3 linked regions of the Homo sapiens genome follow. The gene in region 1 interacts genetically with each later gene. Each region holds a gene or a part of one and is shown in the gene's direction. Other genes may lie near its edges.

Region 1 (3,649 bases):
TGTACCATACTGGGAGTATGGCAGTAAACAAAAGTAAGCAAAACTAAGTTTCTGTCCTCATGGAGCTCACATTCCAATGAGGAGTGACAGGCAATAAATATATAATTACATGTTTATATCAGATGATTGTACATGCTATGAAGAAAATAAAGCAGGTTGGGGCATAGGGCATGTCTAGCAAGGGAGGGTGGGGCTGCAGTTTTAAAAGAGTGATCAAAGAAGGTGTAAGGGAGAAAAAAATGGCTTTCCTCTACCCTTCTAGGTCCTTTGGCTGGGCTGAGAATTAAATTGACATAGACAGATTAACTGGAGGAAAAATAATTAATTACATAGTTGTACACAGGAATCCTACAAAATATGAGGCTCAAAGAAGGGTCAGATAATTGAAGCTTATATAGCATCCTGAGCTACAGAAAAGAATATGGGGCTTGGGACTTCTGTTAGGGGCTTGAGTGGCAGCAACCCAAGTTATGGCAGGGTGAGGGAAAGAATTGGTGGTGGCGTGTGTCTGTGGTCCCAGATACTGTTGAGGGGGTGTACTGAGGTGGGAGGATCACTTGAGCCTGGGAGGTGGAGGTTGCAGTGAGCCGAGATCAAGCCACTGCGCTCCAACCTGGGTGACAGAGCAAGACCCTGTCTCAAAAAATAAAAATAAAAAGTCTCTCTGGTAATAAAATTTGTCTGGAGCAGCCCTCTTCCTAATACAGATACCTTTACTAGTGTAGATTTCCTTTTTAGATGTGAATTTCTTTTACAAAAGGACAGCTTTTCAGAGCTACTCTTATGTCTGCAGTTTCTCAGAATAACCAGTTCAAAATATGCCAAAGAAGTATATTTTTGGGGTGGCATATTGTTTTCCTACAGTCATATTTTGGGATGGTATGTCCTGAGTCCCAACAAAAGTATTACCTAAATTTATTTGAGCCAAGCGCTAAATGAGGTAAGGAGGTGGATGATGTAGGTACCCTACAGCAAAGGGTGTTTAAAGCAGAGGGAATGGACTCAGGAGGGAGCATGCTTGACATTTTCAAGGATGAGCAAGAAGGTCAATGTGGCTGGAGAAGAAACAGCAAAGGGGAAAAGGGTAGAAGGTGGGGAGGGAATGGTTGAGGAGGAGGATGGAGAAGTAGGTGGGGGCCAGATCGCATACAGCATTACAGACCATGATGAGGATTTGGCTTTGGTGGAATGGTCTGTATTCCTTTTTTTTTTTTTTTTGAGACAGAGTCTTTCTCTGTCTCCCAGACTGGAGTGCAGTGGCACGATCTCTGCTCACTGCAAGCTGCACCTCCTGGGTTCACGCCATTCTCCTGCCTCAGCCTCCCAAGTAGCTGGGACTGCAGGTGCCCGCCACCACACCCGGCTAATTTTTGGTATTTTTAGTAGACGGGGTTTCACCATGTTAGTCAGGATGGTCTCGATCTCCTGACCTCGTGATCCGCCCGCCTCAGCCTCCTAAAGTGCTGGAATTACAGGCGTGAGCCACCGTGCCAGGCCTGGTCTGTATTCTTAAGGGTGGCAACAGGGAGCCCAGTGAAGAGGCTGGTGCAATTGCCAGGTGAAAAAGAATAGTGGCTTGGACCTAGAGGTGGAGGTGTAGTGAGACGGGGACTGGAGAATAAGACCAGGCTTGCACATGGTATATTGATGGGTCCAGCCATCCTGGAAACCATATTTTTCAACTACTTGGAGGTCCTAGAATCAAAGTTAAGTAAGATAGATGTTCTTTGGGAATAGTTCTCTCCAAATGTGATATTCTGATGAATGGTCCTCTTCCACTCCAACAGTATTTCTGTCTGAGTAAATGAAATTTGTCTGAGTTCAGTTCCCAACTCATCCGTGTCTACCTATGCAAGCTCCTTTTACCTCTCTGAATCTTGGGACAAATAATAATACCTGCCTCACAGGGGGCGATGGTAAAGACACAGTGAGGTATACCTGAGATGCATAAAGACTGGAGCCATGTTGGTATCATTATTCTTATTATCTTTCCACAGAACGCATGTCAGAGACCCATTCACGGAATCTTGAGCATCCACTCTCCTTTTTCTAAATACCATAGTGACCCATCAGCACATCTCAGAGCAGGCCCTTGCAGCATTTCTGTTGTAGTAGGAGCTCCACAGTGTTTGTGTGCAATGGTGGTGTAAGCACTGGTCTTGGAGTTGGAATCCCAGTTCTACTCTCAGTCTCACCTTGGCCAAGTCACTTCACCCCCAGTCCCCAGTTTCCCTTTATGCAAGATGGAGGGTTTGAAGTAGGCAATAAAGGAATGCTGGTTCTCTCTATCCTTAGGCCTTGTGGCGGATTCCACCATTACAGCATATTTCACATTAGTTATATTTTAAAATGGCTCTCTCCTGTTGACAGATATGTCAGCACCTTAACTAAACCCAGTGTCAAGGCAGGCTAGTTTATCACTGAGCCCACAATAGTGCTACCCTATATTTATGTAACACCTTACAGCTTCCAAAGCACTTTCAGATCCACCTTGCCTTTTTGATCCTTATAACCACCCAGAGAGGTGAGCAGGAAGGATGACATCTCCGTTTCAAAGGAGAGAAATCAGGTGAGAAAGATGAATTGACTTGCCCAAGGTTACATCAGGAGGAAGAGGCAGTTTTTGGACTTTCAAATTGGAACTTGACTACTAGCTTGCTGTGTGACCTTGGGCAAGTCTTTTAACTTGTAAATGGCTATAGTAATGCCACCTTTTTCTGAAGATTGGGTGAATTAATTCATTCTTTTAAGGCTTTCATATCATCCTAGGGCTCTTCACTCACATCATCTGGCTTCTCTTTTTTTACATATTGATTTTTGAAATTGTGGTTTTGTATAAAGAAACTGCCTTTGGGACCGTCTGCTATTTGGTTTCATCCCTGATGAGACTCTCGGGCCAAGCTTGAGCCTTACAGTGAACTCTGAGCCACACAGCTTTTTGGGCAGCCTCCAGTGCTCCCCTCGGAACTGGAGGTTTTTCTCCAGCTCTTCAGGAAATGCCATTGCGATGACTTCCATGGACTGCTTCCTGTCCCAGCCCTGCCGGCAAGAGTGTGGAAACTGGAAAGCAATGTCCCTAGAGGTCCGCCCCCCAAAAACTACTTTTTTTGGACGTGTCCCTGCCTTTCCTCTTGTCCATTACTTTCTTTGCTCCCTACCCTTTCCTCCTTCACCTGGCTTCTGCCTCCAGCTGTGATCATCCCTTCAAGATTTAGAAAATGCCTTTCTACTTGGTTCTGCCAGGCCATTACCCCCTACCCTAGGCTAGGCTGTGAGGGAGGTCAGTTAGAATTCCTGGGTTCTCTCCTTGGCTCCATCACGCATTAGCAGTTTCAGTCCTGGACTTCCCCTGGAGATGCATTAAACCTGTTGCTTGCGGTGCCCTGTGTCATCCATTAACCCTGAGTTCCCCTAGGAGATTCCACCCCACCCCTGCATAGGATGGGATTCTTAAGAGATAACTTGAGGTTTGGCACATATAAATCCTGCCTCTTGGAAATTGATGATAAAGGGTGGAGTGAAACAGAGCCTGCCTTCCCCTCCCCCAGTCACCTTTGAGGAGGAAGCTAGAAGGTTGAAAACCTTGTTGGACAATCATCTGAGGAATGGGAGCTGGCCTGGGAGGGGATTGGAACGCACTCAACTATGC
Region 2 (3,649 bases), on another chromosome or scaffold:
CAAGACTATCCTGGCTAACATGGTGAAACCCCGTCTCTACTAAAAATACAAAAAATGAGCCGGCGTGGTGGCGGGCGCCTGTATTCCCAGCTACTCGGGAGGCTGAGGCGGGAGAATGGTGTGAACCCAGGAGGTGGAGCTTGCAGTGAGCCGAGATCGTGCCACTGCACTCCAGCCTGGGTGACAGAGCGAGACTCCGTCTCAAAAAAAAAAAAAGAAGAAGAAGAAGAAAAAAGATGCCAGCTAATCTTCAATCTTCCCCTCCTGCCCTGCCCATCAGGTCTCCTACACCGCCACCATGCCATTCGGTAACACCCACAACAAGTTCAAGCTGAATTACAAGCCTGAGGAGGAGTACCCCGACCTCAGCAAACATAACAACCACATGGCCAAGGTACTGACCCTTGAACTCTACAAGAAGCTGCGGGACAAGGAGACTCCATCTGGCTTCACTGTAGACGATGTCATCCAGACAGGAGTGGACAACCCAGGTGAGCCTCCCCAGTGGAGCACTGAAGGGGCTACATGGGGGCTCTGGAGGCTGCCGGCCATGCCCCAATCCCACCACCCTTGAAGGGGGGGGGGCCTCAGTTTTCTCATCTGTAAAATGGGGCTGTTGTGGGAATCAATGCATTAATATACATAAAGGCTTGGGACAGTGCGAGGTACTCAGCAAACCACGCAATAAACATGCACGAGAATAATGTGAGATCCCCAAGGAGGTCGGTTCACCTCCTGAACCTCAGTCTCCTCATCTGAAAAATGGGCGCCCACGTTGTGAAAACACAAGTCAATGGCTGTGCAGTGCTTAGAGTGGCACCTGGCACCAAGTGAGTGCTCAAGCTCTGACAGGGGGGCCAGGTGCAGTGGCTCATGCCTGTAATCCCAGCACTTTGGGAGGCCCAGGTGGGAGGATCACTTGAGGCCAGGAGTTTGAGACCAGCCTGAGCAACATAGCAAGACCCTGTCTCTACAAAAAATACAAAAAAATTAGCCAAGTGTGGTGATGAGGGCTTGTGGTCCAAGCTACTCAGGAGGCTGCGGTGGGAGGATCGCTTGAGCCTGGGAGGTGCAGGTTGCAGTAAGCCGAGATCGCGCCACTGTACTCCAGCCACAGAGTGAGACCCTGTCTCAAAAAAAAAAAAAAAGAATCTGACAGGGGATGTTATTAATGTTATGGTTGTTTCTCAAAGGACATTGCAAGGCGAAGAGAGCTGGGAGTGGAGGGGAGGCTCTAGTGCCCCTCACATCCAGCTCACTGTGTGATGCCGGGGAGAAGCCCCTCTCTCCTGGCCCCTGTTTTTCCACTGGGAAACAAGAGGGTCTTTCAAGTCTCTTACCCTCCTGACCCTCTGTGGTACGGTGGTAGCCTGAGATCCTAACATTTCAGGCTAAGATGTCATGACTTTGGGTGCTAATGTTTCCGAGGTGCTGATGCTTTTAGCACCATGTACCCTCTGAAGCTCCCCTTTCTCCTTTGACCCCGCCCCCAGCACTCTTTCTTCTCTCCCACCTTGACCCCTCCCAGCCACCTTGACCTCTCCCAGCCTTCCCTCCCAGTTCCCACCAGTCCTCAGTGTTCTCTCTTTTTTTTTTTTTCCTTTGGAGACAGAGTCTTGCTCTGTCACCCAGGCTGGAGTGCAGTGGTGTGATCTTGGCTCACTGCAACCTCCACTCCCTTGGTTCAAGCAATTCTCATGCCTCAGCCTCCTGAGTAGCTGGGATTACAGGTGTGTGCCCCACACCCAGCTAATTTTTGTATTTTTAGCAGAGATGGGGTTTCACCCTGTTGGCCAGGCTGGTCTCACACTCCTGACCTCAAGAGATTCACCCGCCTCACCCTCCCAAAGTGCTGGGATTGCAGGCATGAGCCACTGTGCCCAACCCTTATGATTCTCAATTCCCACCCAGAGGTATTGAATGTACCCGCCCCCATCCCGACACACATGTCCACACAGGCTCCACTGAGCCCACAAGCCCACGCCCTGTTTGCTGGGGACAAGCAGCTCTGACCTCACCCCCACCCCTCCAGGTCACCCCTTCATCATGACCGTGGGCTGCGTGGCTGGTGATGAGGAGTCCTACGAAGTTTTCAAGGAACTCTTTGACCCCATCATCTCGGATCGCCACGGGGGCTACAAACCCACTGACAAGCACAAGACTGACCTCAACCATGAAAACCTCAAGGTCGGTGTCTGCGCAGGAGGGGAGGGCCGAGGGGTGAGGAGGAGAGAGATCACAGGAGAAATGGGGGGAGACAGAGAAATACAGAGACAGAGAGAGACACAGAGGTGTGGAGAAGCAGAGAGATGGAAAGAGAGAGGGACATTGGGAGGCTGAGGCGAGCGTATCACTTGAGGTCAGGAGTTCAAGACCAGCCTGGCCAACATGGCAAAACTCTGTCTTTAAAAAAAAAAAAAAGGGCTGGGCACGGCGGTGGCTCACGCCTGTAATCCCAGCACTTTGGGAGGCCAAGGCGGGCAGATCACCTTAGATTGAGAGTTTGAGACCAGCCTGACCAACATGGTGAAACCCCGTCTCTACTAAAAATACAGAATTAGCTGGGTGTGGTGGCACATGCCTGTAATCCCAGCTACGTGGGAGGCTGAGGCAGGAGAATCGCTTGAACCTGGAAGGCAGAGGTTGTGGTGAGCAGAGATCGTGCCATTGCACTCCAGCCTGGGCAACAAGGGCGAAACTCGTCTCAAAAAATAAATAAATAAATAAATAAAATAAATTAGCTGGGCATGGTGGCGCGTGCCTGTAATCCCAGCTACTCAGGAGGTGGAGGCAGGAAAATCTCTTGAACCCAGGAGATGGAGGCTGCAGTGAGCTGAGATCATGCCACTGCACTCCAGCCTGGGTGACAGAGCAAGATTCTATCTCAGAAAATAAAAAAAGGAAAGAGAGAGGGACAGAGAGACACAGAGACAGCCAAGGAGACACAGACAACCAAGGAGACAGACAGACAAAGGAGAGGGAGAGGGAGAAGAAAGGCACAAAAGCATGTAGAAAAGGAAGAGGCATAGCCGGGCACAGTGGCTCACGCTTGTAATCCCAACACTTTGGGAGGCTGAGGTGGGCGGATCATAAGGTCAGGAGTTCGAGACCAGCCTGACCAACACGGTGAAACCCAGTCTCTATTAAAAATACAAAAATTAGCTAGGCATGCTGGTGTTCACCTATAATCCTAGCTATTCAGCCTGGGTGACAGAGCGAGACTCTGCCTAAAAAAAAAAGGGTGGGGGGAGAGGCAGAGACACAGAGGGAGACAGAAGGGAGCATCAGAGAAGGCAGGAGAGACAGGGAGAGAGAGACACACGCAGTTGCAGTCAGACACAGACAAGGAGAGTGGGAGAAAGGGAGACAGGAAGAGAAACAGAAATGGGCAGAAAGGCTGGGTGCAGTGGCTATACCTGTAATCCCAGCACTTATGGAGGCTGAGGTGTGAGGATCACGTGAAGCCAGGAGAGTTCACGACCAGCTTGGGCAACATAGCAAGAACCCGTCTCTGCCCAAAAAAAAGAAAAAAAAAAGCCTAAAAATTTAGCTAGGCATGGTGGCTCATGCCTGTAATCCCATCACGTTGGGAGGCTGAGGCAGGAGGACTGTTTGAGCCCAGGAGTTTGAGACCAGCCTGGGCAACATA
Region 3 (3,649 bases), on another chromosome or scaffold:
CTTTGTAGGGGAAAAAATTGAGGCACGGAGAGGGATCAGGCTTTGCTCAGGCCACATGGCCAGTCCATGGCAGGTGGGTATCAGAATCCAGGCCTGCTCGTGCCCTTGAAACCACCTGGCTAGTTCCAGCTGGAACTGCCCTCTCCAGCCACTCTCCTCCTCTCCCGCCACCTCCTCATTCAGCTGCTACCTGCTGGCTGTCTTCTCCCACAGGGCCCCTGTGCAGCATCCTGGTGGGACGCTTCGGCTGCCGAGTGACCGTGATGCTGGGGGGCGTGCTGGCCAGCCTGGGCATGGTGGCCAGCTCCTTCTCTCACAACCTCAGCCAGCTCTACTTCACAGCAGGATTCATCACAGGTGACTATCACTTCATCTCCAGAATTTATAGGCACCTGCTAGAAAGTGCCAGGCACAAGTGGACAGGGCAGGCAGGCCTCTTAATCTTCTGGAACTGCTGGCTGGGTGCGGTGGCTCACACCTGTTATCCCAGCACTTTGGGAGGCTGAGGCGGGCAGATCACCTGAGGTCAGGGGTTCGAGACTAGCCCGGCCAACATGGTGAAACCCTGTCTATACTAAAAAAAATACAAAAATTAGCCAGGCTTGGTGGCGGGCCCCTGTAGTCCCAGCTACTCGAGGCTGAGGCAGGAGAATCGCCCGGGAAGTGGAGGTTGCAGTGAGCCAAGATCGCACCACTGTACTCCAGCCTGGGCAACAGAGCAAGACCCCATCTCAAAAACACAAAAAACAAAGTGCTGGGATTACAGGTGTGAGCCCATCATGCCCAGCCCTTTCACGGCATTTTGTTTTAAGGGGACTGGAGGAACAGACTATACCCAGAAGTGGTTATGAGGTCAAGACAGGCTTTTTTTGTTTGTTTGTTTGTTTGTTTTTAATGGGAGAAATAACGAAGGAGAAGGATCTAGGAAAGAAGAGAAAAAGGATGATGCAGGAGAGAGGGGACTTGCTAGAGGGGTGCCTCTGAGTGGAGAGGATGCAGGGCAGAAGGGAGGGACAGCCACTGGGGGAATGGGCAAGCCATTGTCACTGGCTAGCAGGCATGTGGGCAGCTGAGCATAAGGATAGGGAGGAGGTGTTGGGGGGCACAGAGGAAGACACCGGTAGTCACCTAGCAGGGCAGGCAAGGCATGATTGAGGGAGCTGTAGTGGCGTCACAGGCAGCCTGAGGGCCCGCCTGAGGCCACGGTCACACATGATTGAGAACTTTTTCTCCAGCATGCTCAGGTGTGCAGGTGCAGACACTGAGTGGGTGGGGAGCGGGGAAGGCCCCTCTGGAGAGGTGGCGTCTGAACTGAGAGGAGAGTGGAAAGTCTGGAGGAAGCAGATTCCAAGAAGGAACAGCAGCTACAAATAACCCGAGGTAGGGGCAGCTTCATGTCCAGAGGCAGAGAAAGAAGTTCCTGTGTCTTGATCCTAATGAGTGACAGGGAGCAGCCTGAGATGGCATCTGAGAGGCGGGCTGGAGCCGGACCACAGAGAGCCTTCCAGGGCATTGTGGAGACTGTGGATTTTTTGTCAAGTGTGATGGGAAGTCTTTGGAAGGTGTTAAGCCAAGAGAGACTTAATCCAATTTGGGGTTTGTTTGTTTTTGAGACAGAGTCTCACTCTGTTGCCCAGGCTGGAGTGCAGTGGCACAATCTCAGCTCACTGCAACCTCCACAACCTCAGCTCACTGCAACCTCCACTTCCCGGGTTCAAGTGATTCTCCTGACTCAGCCTCCTAGGTAGCTATTACAGACTACAGGCGCCTGCCACTAAGCCTGGCTAATTTTTTTGTATTTTTAGTAGAGATGGGGTTTCACCATGTTGGTCTCGAACTCCTGACCTCAAGTGATCCGCCAACCTTGGCCTCCCAAAGTGCTGGGATTACAGGCGTGAGCCACCGCGCTCGGCCCAATTTGGGTTTTTAAAAGATAACTCTCGTGCTACACCTAGGGGAACAGGGATGCCCTGGCAGCCTTGGGAGGGCAGATCTGGGGTGGGGTGCCTACAGGGAGGTGGCGAGGCCAGCTGATTCCATGGTCAGTCCCCAGGGACTTGGAGCTGGGTATGGACTAGAACCAGAGGAGGGCAGGTGTGTGAAATGACCACTGACCCCACCCCTGGGTGCAGGTGGAAGGCCCCAGTGCGCCTCCAGGCTGGTTTCCCCTCTTGCCCCGCAGGCCTGGGCATGTGCTTCAGCTTCCAGTCAAGCATCACGGTGCTGGGCTTCTACTTTGTCCGCCGGCGGGTGCTGGCCAACGCGCTGGCCTCGATGGGCGTCTCCCTGGGCATCACCCTCTGGCCGCTGCTCTCCCGCTACCTTCTGGAGAACCTGGGCTGGAGGGGTACCTTCCTTGTCTTCGGCGGGATCTTTCTCCACTGCTGCATCTGCGGGGCCATCATAAGGCCTGTGGCCACCAGTGTGGCCCCTGAGACCAAAGAATGTCCCCCGCCACCTCCCGAGACACCTGCACTTGGCTGCCTGGCTGCATGCGGCCGGACCATCCAGCGCCACCTGGCCTTCGACATCCTGCGGCACAACACAGGCTACTGCGTGTACATACTGGGTGTGATGTGGTCCGTCCTGGGCTTCCCACTGCCACAAGTCTTCCTGGTGCCATATGCCATGTGGCACAGCGTGGACGAGCAGCAGGCAGCCCTCCTCATCTCCATCATCGGCTTCAGCAACATCTTCCTGAGGCCCCTAGCCGGGCTGATGGCAGGACGGCCGGCCTTTGCTAGCCACCGCAAGTACCTGTTCAGCCTGGCACTCCTGCTCAATGGGCTCACTAACCTGGTGTGTGCGGCATCAGGTGACTTCTGGGTGCTCGTGGGCTACTGCCTGGCGTACAGCGTGTCCATGAGTGGCATCGGCGCCCTCATCTTCCAGGTTCTCATGGACATCGTCCCCATGGATCAGTTCCCCAGAGCCCTGGGACTCTTCACTGTCCTGGACGGCCTTGCTTTCCTCATCTCCCCACCACTGGCCGGTGAGGAGCTGGGAGGGAGGGCAGCCAGATAGTGTGGTAAAAGGGGAACAGTTTAGACAGATCTGGGCCCAGTCCAGCATCTCCAGAGGTTGTGCTACAGCTGGTTTCCAACCTGGCACTCAGAGTATGAACAGTTAAAAACATGGGTTTGGCCCGGCGCGGTGGCTCATGCCTGTAATCCCAGCACTTTGGGAGGCCGGGGCGGGCAGATCATGAGGTCAGGAGATCGAGACCATCCTGGCCAACATGGTGAAACCCCGTCTCTACTAAAAATACAAAAAAATTAGTTGGGCGTTGTGATGGGCGCCTGTAGTCCCAGCTACTCGGGAGGCTGAGGCAGGAGAATGGCATGAACACAGGAGGCAGAGCTTGCAGTGAGCTGAGATTGCGCCACTGCACTCCAGGCTGGGCAACAAAGCGAGACTCCGCCTCAAAAAGAAAAAAAAAAAAGCATGGGTTTGTGACCAGGTGCGGTGGCTCACGCCTGTAATCCCAGCACTTTGGGAGGCTGAGGCGGGTGGATCACGAGGTCAGGAGATCGAGACCAACATGGCTAACGTGGTGAAACCCCATCTCTACTAAAAATACAAAAAAATTAGCTGGGTGTGGTGGCGGGCACCTGTAAATCCCAGCTACTTGGGAGGCTGACACCAGAGA

Evidence for each region.
Region 2: changes in BCL2L1 (region 1) and CKM together harm fitness less than expected from each alone (positive genetic interaction), as found in Homo sapiens cells (one large-scale study listed by BioGRID).
Region 3: changes in BCL2L1 (region 1) and SLC16A5 together harm fitness more than expected from each alone (negative genetic interaction), as found in Homo sapiens cells (one large-scale study listed by BioGRID).

What each region holds. Positions count from the first base shown.
Region 1 is NC_000020.11:31,712,841-31,716,489, reverse strand, and holds part of BCL2L1 (bcl-2-like protein 1), read left to right. Parts: intron 1-3,649. UniProt on the Homo sapiens protein: Potent inhibitor of cell death. Inhibits activation of caspases. Appears to regulate cell death by blocking the voltage-dependent anion channel (VDAC) by binding to it and preventing the release of the caspase activator, CYC1, from the mitochondrial membrane.
Region 2 is NC_000019.10:45,316,363-45,320,011, reverse strand, and holds part of CKM (creatine kinase M-type), read left to right. Parts: intron 1-280; 5' UTR 281-298; coding exon 299-491; intron 492-2,032; coding exon 2,033-2,187; intron 2,188-3,649. UniProt on the Homo sapiens protein: Reversibly catalyzes the transfer of phosphate between ATP and various phosphogens (e.g. creatine phosphate).
Region 3 is NC_000017.11:75,097,825-75,101,473, forward strand, and holds part of SLC16A5 (monocarboxylate transporter 6), read left to right. Parts: intron 1-213; coding exon 214-357; intron 358-2,132; coding exon of another isoform or gene 2,133-2,182; coding exon 2,183-2,992; intron 2,993-3,649. UniProt on the Homo sapiens protein: Proton-linked monocarboxylate transporter.